2 separate regions of the Homo sapiens genome follow, and region 1 is linked to region 2. A link means that fine-mapping ties the variant in region 2 to the expression of a gene that starts in the linked region. Tissue or cell type: whole blood. Region 2 holds a variant in brackets; the other region holds the start of a gene. All regions are shown on one strand. Distances are from middle to middle.

Region 1 (4,000 bases), 23 kb before region 2:
GATCCCATGGGGCATGGTTCCCACTGGCATGGCTTTCAATGTGTGAATTATTCTGCCCCCAAATTGCCAGGTGATCTCAGAGAAGGCACAGAACCTCTTGGGGCCTGAACTAGTAAATGAGGGCTCTGAACACCAGGATAGCCAAGAGTCCCTCCAGTTAGAGGGACCACAATTCCCCTGTAAGACAGAATCTCAGCCAAAAGGAGCTTCTGGTCTGATAAACCCAAGAACTGGGAAATGACTTGGGACTACATTCTTTTGTAAAGAGTGAGGTAAAAAAAAATTTAGTTTGAATCTGTTTTTCTTCTTTTAAATGGAAACAAAGACAAGTGGAAAGTCAGAAAAAAGTTCACGGGTAGCACACGAGAGCTGAGGAGCATGCAGCTGAGACCGCAGTGAATATTTGGTGAGTGTCTGGGTTGATTATTACTACATATCAAACTACCTCAATCCCCAGTGGCACGAAACAATCCTTTTATCATAGCTTGTGGTTTATGGGTCAGGAAGTTGTGGGTGGTTTGTCTCTGCTCCACGTGGCATTAGCTGTGGCAGCTGCAGGTGAAGGATCCACCTCCGAGAGGGTGTCTTCACCCCTCTGCCTGGTGCTAGATGCTCTGGGGGCCCTGGGTGTTGCTTGCTTGGACTTCCTCACAACATGGCAGCTACAAAGCATCTCATGACCTAGCCTTGGAAGTCTCAGGACATCATTTCCACTGCATTCTATTGTTAAGTCCATCACTAGGCCACCCCATATTCAAGGGGAGGGAAGGAATAGACACATCTTGGATGGAGTTTGGGGTGTGTATGTGTGTGTGTGTGTGTGCATGTGTGCATGCCCATGAGGCAGAGGGCAACCTAGGAGGGGCCTGGCCTGGCCACAGCCCACCTTCCAGGTCAGATTGGGAAGGGGCAGGTGGTGGGCAGGAAGTAGAGGAACCTGTGTTTTGCCTCCAGCAAGGAGCCCAGGAAAGCAGCCCGGCCTCGGGGAGCCGTCCCACAGAGACGTCTCTCGGGGAACATCCTACTGGGTAGCAGAGTCTCCAAAAAGTAAAAAGAATCTGACAGCCCCTTCTCTGCCCTTCTCCTACACTCCCTCCATAGCACATGGGTCTGGAAGGGGCTGAACTTGAGCTAACTTTGAGGGCCACCCAGCCACAGTGGCCTGGGAAGACTGACCCAGCTGGGGTGATGAGCAATTTGGCAGGTACCAGGGAAGCTGGGGGACTGCCTGGGGACCACTGGTGTCCTTCCCATCTTTAGCACCAGTCAGACCTCCAGAACCTTGACTCAACCCCGTGGCACCTTGTATACTGAGATGTATTTCCTTGTGGAATATTCGAAGTGCGTGTAAAGGCATCCTGAGGTTTCCTGAGTTTGAATCAGTGAGAAATCATGCTGTGGCCATCATAAATCCACATCCTCCAAGGGGAATGGGCCACTGAAACAAAAATGATTCTCCCCTTAGAGGAACAGACCAAGTCATGTTTCTGGACCCCTAACTCTGAGGCATGAGATGTGAACACACGGGTGGGAGAGTAGGTGCCTGGCCATGTCCTGTCACATCCCGGATGCTCAGTGCATGTGGCTGTGTATGTGTTGTCTTTGACATTTGACCTATTCCAGAAATGGGACGTTCTTCCCTAGACCAGGAGGAAGGGCTCTCTTCTGTTGTATATCTCTGCCCAGGGCTTGCCCGCATGCCTCTGTGTTTGTTTGTTGGCTCATTTGTACCCTGGCCCTTTGTATCCCCAGCCCCACCCCACAGTATCCAGCAGCCAGACACCTGCTATCCCCAAATGCTGCCACAAGCTCAGCACCAAACCTTGATTTCTCCAAAGCCCTTTTACGTCAACTCCTTCATCTCCTCTCTCCCCTTCTTCCCTTCTCTTTCACTCCATCCTCTTCCTTCCTGCTGTCTTGCCTTCCCTCCTTTGTTGCCTTTACTTCTCCTCTTCCCCTTTCTTCCTCCTCCCTTGCTCCTCACTCTTTGTCTCCCAACTATGCGTCTCCTCGTCCTCGTTCCCTGCCTCTGTCTCTGACCCACTGCATCTCTCTCCTGTCTGGCTCTCCCCTGGGTAGTTCCAGAAACATACCCATATATGGCCTCCATGTCAAGGATCACAAATGATGACATCACGTGAGGGCCAAAGCTCCGGGATCCTCTCTGAAGTGAGAGTCTGTATTCGATGCACCCGGAGGAACGGAAGGCAGGATTGCAGCTTCCTCAGTGCAACCTCCAAACAGGAAATCTGAGATGTATAACATCTTATAGTTTGGCTTGTCAACGTTGGTCATGCGGTGGCCCCAAAATAAACTCCCTGCTTCAAAGGACAGCGTTTCAGAACTGCCTGGCAGAGCAGCCAGAAGCTTGGGGCCAGGGCAGAAGGAAAACTCGGGGAGCATGTTCTGAATTAAGACACTTTCAAGAAAATCCTTTGTATTACCCCTGAATTGTACCCTTGTTTCAGAGCCTAACAGGTAATGCATGCTTTCAACTTTCTTATACAGATCTTGCAAAAGATTCTTTGGCTGGTGGGGATTTTCGGCTGCAGTACTTACTGGAAACCGCTTGTAGTCAAACTGTGATGTTGCTTTTCCCTCTCTCTCGTATTTTCTTGAGTTATACAGCACGCTGGTGACTTTCGTTTTGGATGCAATGAACAGAGACTCAGCAATTTGCATGTACTTACCCATTCTTCTGGAGGACTCTGGCTCAGAATATCACTCTGCTGTGCACTTCTAAAAATGGAAATGCAAAAGGACTTATCAATGATGCTATTGTTGGGTCTGTAGGTCTTGGGCGGTATCTGTGTCAGACAAGTGACTTTCAGAAATGCTTTCAGGCCAGGCGCACAGATAGAGGTTTTCATGAGTGGGAGTTAATTTAATGTAGCTGTTGCAGAGTGCCTAGGCATGCACGGTATTGTGGGAGACCATAGCAGCCAAGGTGCCATGTGCTCTGCTTTCAACTGTTTGGGGATTAGGAGAGGAAATGGAGGAATGTTATTTATGTGAGATCCAACAAAGCTGTGGAATGCAGGGATGCAAGAATACCATGCATGTGTGTGCACACGCATATGCATGACACATTTAAGGAGGCCATGGCCTTTGAAAGGATGGGTGGGATGCCTCAGGGTGGAAACAGAGACCTCCAGGTGGAGGAGCAGCTTGGGCAAAGGCAGGGAAGTCAAGGGACCTGGGGTGATGATGGAAAGTGAAATGTGGCTCTGGCAAAGGGTTCTGCATGTGAAAAATGGGGGTGAGGCTAGAAGGGGAGGCCAGAGGGAGAGGCACATCCTTCCAGGCCAAGCAAGAAGTTGGAACACTTTCTGAGAGTTTTTGAGCAGAGGACGGCATGCACATAGCCACATGCATTGAGCATCTGGGATATGAAGGGACACAGCCAGGCACCTACACTCCCACCCGTGTGTTCACATCTCAGGCCCCAGAGGTGGAGGCCCAGAAACATGACTTGGTTTCTGGTGCCTCTAGGTGGAGAATCATTTTCATTTCAGTGGCCCATTCCCCTTGGAGGATGTGAGATTTGGCTTCGGTGGCTCTTCGGGAAGCCAGGGGTATGCACTGGAATGAGGAGGCAAGGAGGCTGGTGACTCCTAGGGAGGGCAGGTAAATGAGGAAGGCCTGAAGCAGGGCAGAAGCTGAGCCCCTGCACAGGACAGGAATGCTCTTCTGAAGATAAGCTTGTTTCGTGAGGCGAGGGCTTGAGGGGGCTCAGAGGGACGCAGGCAGAGCCAGCTGGGGCCAGCACCCCCGCCACAGCCCTGACCTCTGCCTGGGCAGAAGCACCATGAGGCAGACAGTGGCAGATGCTCGAGGCACTTCCAAAACAGTTGGACGGGTCCTGACAGCTGGTGGCAGGCCCATGTGCTGCACAGCGTCCCCAAGAAGCTGGCAGCAGCTCCGCTGGGTGCCATGCTGGTTTGCATCATCTGTTCTTGCACAAACAGGCCGGGTCATGAGTGCCTTGTGGTGGCGGGGG
Region 2 (4,000 bases):
CAGCTGGAGAGACCCAAGCTGGGCGGCAGGTCCTGAAAGTGTTCTCACGACACTGCACCACGCCCTGCTCGCCAAGGCCACGAGAAAAGCCAGCCCTCCTCCCTTCCACTTCAGCTGGGGTCCCTTTGGAGACACTCCAGGAAAAGGGGGGCACATACCCCCACTGGGCTTTTCCTGATGCTGACAGGGGCTGCTCTGGCTGTTCCTAAGTGGAACTCGTCAAGGTGGCAGTGACGGTGCTGATGGGGACCTCAGGACTTATCTGATCAGTTTCCCATCGTCCTTGCTGGGTCTGTTGCTTCACCGGCATCTGTGCTCTGACACCATTAATAACCACAGAGTCTGAGAGTCAGGAGGAAGTGCTGCTCACGCTGGAGGAAGTGGCTGGGAGAGTGCAGGGGCTGGTGGCAGAGACCGCCCAGAGCCCATCCTAGCCCAACATGGCGTGGGTGTCCTGGGAATGAGGCCTGCCTCCAGCCTCACCTTCTCCATCTGGGAAATGGGACTATTGATGCAGAAGCCTCCCCAAAAGTGGATCTGAGAGGCATAGACATCGTGGTTCTCACGGACTCTCCAAGGATGAGGTAGGGAGCTCAGTGAATGAATGAAGGAAGGAAGGAAGCAATGAATGAACAAAGGGACTTTAACAAGCCAAGCAAGGAACGGCTTCACTTTAGCCCTCAAATCTTTTTGACATTCAGAAGTTTTAAACTGTGAAGGCTTCAAATTTATTAATCCTTCCAGTATATATTTTTTTTCTGCAGCTGGATGTACTGGGAGTAGGAATAAGCGACAGGGCAAGGAGAGGAGTTGGAAGACCCCAGAGATATGCTCAGGGTTAAGAGGGGGCCCCCGAGATGGGCGTGCCTGGTAAATGCTAGAGTGCTATACTCAGGGAAAGCATTTAATTATCACAAGTGCCTCACATGTGGGTGGTTAGCCACCCTCTAGGAGGCTGGCATTGTGTGCCTGAATCCTCTTGGTAGAATTGGTTTTGGTATAACATTCCCGGCAGCCATGGAAAGCCACAGAGATGGAGGGATCCCCCAGTCCTCTTGCAGCCACTGGGCTGCAGGGGGCTGAGTGCTCATCCTGGAACCAGCAGGGACGAGGACCGAGTGACTCCACTGCCAGCACTCCTGAGAGAGAGGCCCCCTGGCCTGGCCTTGGCCTGACCTTGAGGACTGACCCACTCCTTCCTCTCACAGGCCTGCGGACCCCTTGATAAAGGCCATCAAGGATGGCGATGAAGAGGCCTTGAAGACCATGATCAAGGAAGGGAAGAATCTCGCAGAGCCCAACAAGGAGGGCTGGCTGCCGCTGCACGAGGCCGCATACTATGGCCAGGTGGGCTGCCTGAAAGTCCTGCAGCGAGGTGAGGGCTGGGCTCTGACGGTGGCAAGAGGTGGGAAAGGGACTAGGGGAAGGGCTGCCGCTCCTGGGGCTTCATGTTCTTTGCCCACAATCATCTTGGGAGAAGGGCAGGCAAGGCTGTCACTTTCATTTGTCAGTTAGTCATGGAGTTACGAGAGGGGAAATGAGTTGTCCCCACCCCCTGCTGCCACCTCTCCAGGCCTCCAAGGACAGGAGAGCCTAATTCCTAGAAAAGGAATGAGGGAGGGCTGACTTTTAGAAGAACCACTGCCAACTTGTTCCAGAATGTCCCAGGGGCTGATTTGGTGTGAAAAATACTGCAGCTGTGCCTGTGCCCGGCCAAGGCTATCCCCCACCTGCTGTGGGACCGCGGGACAGCCGTGCCTCCTCTCTGAGCCCTGTCTTCCTACTGAGCCAGGTTCAGAAGGGCAACTCCTGCAGGCAGGTGTCACCTCTGCCCTGAAGCAGCACAGACCCCACACGGCCCCCGACACTCCAAGAAACCATGGCATGTAACAGTGGGTTTCCAGCAATGGCTGGTGTGAGTTCGAGG[A/G]AAGGACAGGAGTATTCGAAGAGGGAGGGGCTCCATTAGGGAAGGCTTCTCAGAGGACGTGGCATCTGAGCTTGGACGTGTACGACCAGGAAGCTAAAATGGCCCTGTGAAAGGGCCAGATGAATGCAGTCTGTAGTTGGTAAATTTCAGAGGATGTCATACATTGTTCTTGAAATTGGGAGGCAATCGGGAAAGCCTCTGTGTTGCGGGGCTGAGTATCTTTCTCCTACATGAATTTCCCGGTGGGCCCTCCCTAGCGTACCCAGGGACCATCGACCAGCGCACCCTGCAGGAGGAAACAGCCGTTTACTTGGCAACGTGCAGGGGCCACCTGGACTGTCTCCTGTCACTGCTCCAAGCAGGGGCAGAGCCGGACATCTCCAACAAATCCCGAGAGACACCGCTCTACAAAGGTGAGGTCCCCACCCCGGAGTGAGCTTTCCTGCGGAAGAATCCAGAAGCTGGGTGAGCAACAGGGAATGTTGCTCCCGTTAAGTGCATAACCCCCAACGTGGCCCTGCTCAAATGCACAATTTATGTAACTGAATCATTCATTCCTGCATGTATTTTACCAACATTTTCCAACTGCATCCCATGGGCCAGGATGCTGAGGGACACTGAGGGCTTGGAGCTGAAAAGCTATAGTCCAACCTGTGCACCCTCCCAGCCCTGTAGGCACCCACACACAGAGAGCAGGAAAGGGCTTGGCAGGAGGCATTGTGGGAGCATGGGGGAGGGGCACCCAGAGGAGGGGTGCCTGAGCTGAACCACAGAGGAGGAATCACCTGCTGGCCAAGCAGCGGGAACCGCACAGGCAAAGGCATGAAGGTATGCGAGAGCATGTACCTCTGGGACATTTGTTTAAGAAAAACAAGGCCTCCTGGCTTACTCAGTACATCATCCATGGACATTTGTTGGCTGCCCTAGCAGTACCCAGAGTCAAAGTCTAAATAATCACAATAGCTAGCATTGATTGAGTGTTTAGTATGTGCCAGGCACCGTTCTCTTATGGACCCCTCATGTCCATCTGCACATGAAGTAGGCACTGCTGGTATCCCCTTTCACATATGAGGACCTAAGGCACCAAGACATTAAATGGGTCGCCCAGGATCACACAGCTTGCAAGGGGTACCCCAGTGGTTTAAACTCAGGGAGGTGGATGTCACACTGCCCTCAACTACTACATTCTAAAGCATCCTGTCCATGCCTACATGCTGAAGCAATCAGCTGGGGTCTTACAAATGATCAGGCCTTTGTACTTGGAAAAATTACAGATATCCCTGATTTCCCATGTGTCTATCCAGTGCTTGGAACAGCTTGGGCAGCAGGAACTGAGTAGTAGGTCACTGGATCCGCTGCAGACCCACCATGGAAGTGTCTTCCCTGGAATCCGTGCCTGCCAGGGCGCCATGGCTATCACCTGGAACCTCAGCTGTCCAAAGGGAGTGCCCAGGAAGCTGGGCAGCCCACAGCCAGAGCTTGGCCCTGGTCTTGCAAGCACACCTACTATGTGCCAAGCACTATGCTCATGCCTTACACACAGTCTCACTCCCATAGCATCTGCTCAAGAAGGTTTTATTCTCTCCATTTTACAGATGAGAAAGTCAAGGCTTAGAGAGGTAGAAGGCTTGGCCTATGGTTCTATTTGAAACAGTACACAGGCAGCCCTCCTCCCCCTGCTGCCAGTCTCCCTGACCCATTCCTCACTCCTCCTCCCACTGACACGGACACAGAGAAGCTTCCAGGGCTGGTTAATTTGGAAAAGTGCCCAGGTGACTCCAATACCACCTGCAGCTCCTGGTGAGAACTCTGGGGCCAGAGCCAAGGGCACGTTTGGGGTCTAGAGAGAGATGAGGCTTATAAAGGAGGTTAGAGCAGGTCAAGAAAGACTTGAGGAGCTGTACTCACAACGTGCATTTTACCCTGAACTAAATTAGTAGCCTTTGCTGGAGCAGGGGGAAGTTCAGCAGGATTATGACACCGCTGACTCCTCATCTAGAAAGATTCTTCCAGCCTTGGTAATGTGGAGGACTGAAGCAGGTACCACTGGAAGGGGAAATGATAGGGACATCC

What was found. PIP is the estimated chance that this variant, and not a neighbour inherited with it, causes the effect.
Region 1: ASB2 starts here. The variant in region 2 is fine-mapped to the expression of ASB2 in whole blood (TOPMed, PIP 0.94).

What each region holds. Positions count from the first base shown.
Region 1 is chr14:93,974,912-93,978,911 of GRCh38, reverse strand. ASB2 (ankyrin repeat and SOCS box containing 2) reads left to right here and starts at 2,342. Exons shown (of 10, transcript NM_001202429.2): 1 at 2,342-2,478. It overlaps LOC107984663 (a long non-coding RNA gene), which reads left to right. Exons shown (of 4, transcript XR_001750861.2): 4 at 1-1,487. RefSeq lists an enhancer at 3,290-3,861.
Region 2 is chr14:93,951,692-93,955,691 of GRCh38, reverse strand. It overlaps ASB2 (ankyrin repeat and SOCS box containing 2), which reads left to right. Exons shown (of 10, transcript NM_001202429.2): 4 at 1,209-1,375; 5 at 2,185-2,340. Among named protein-coding and RNA genes, the nearest start is that of MIR4506, 5.4 kb to the right of the region's middle. RefSeq lists enhancers at 1-706, 817-1,794. The variant A/G (reference allele first, on the strand shown) is at 1,928.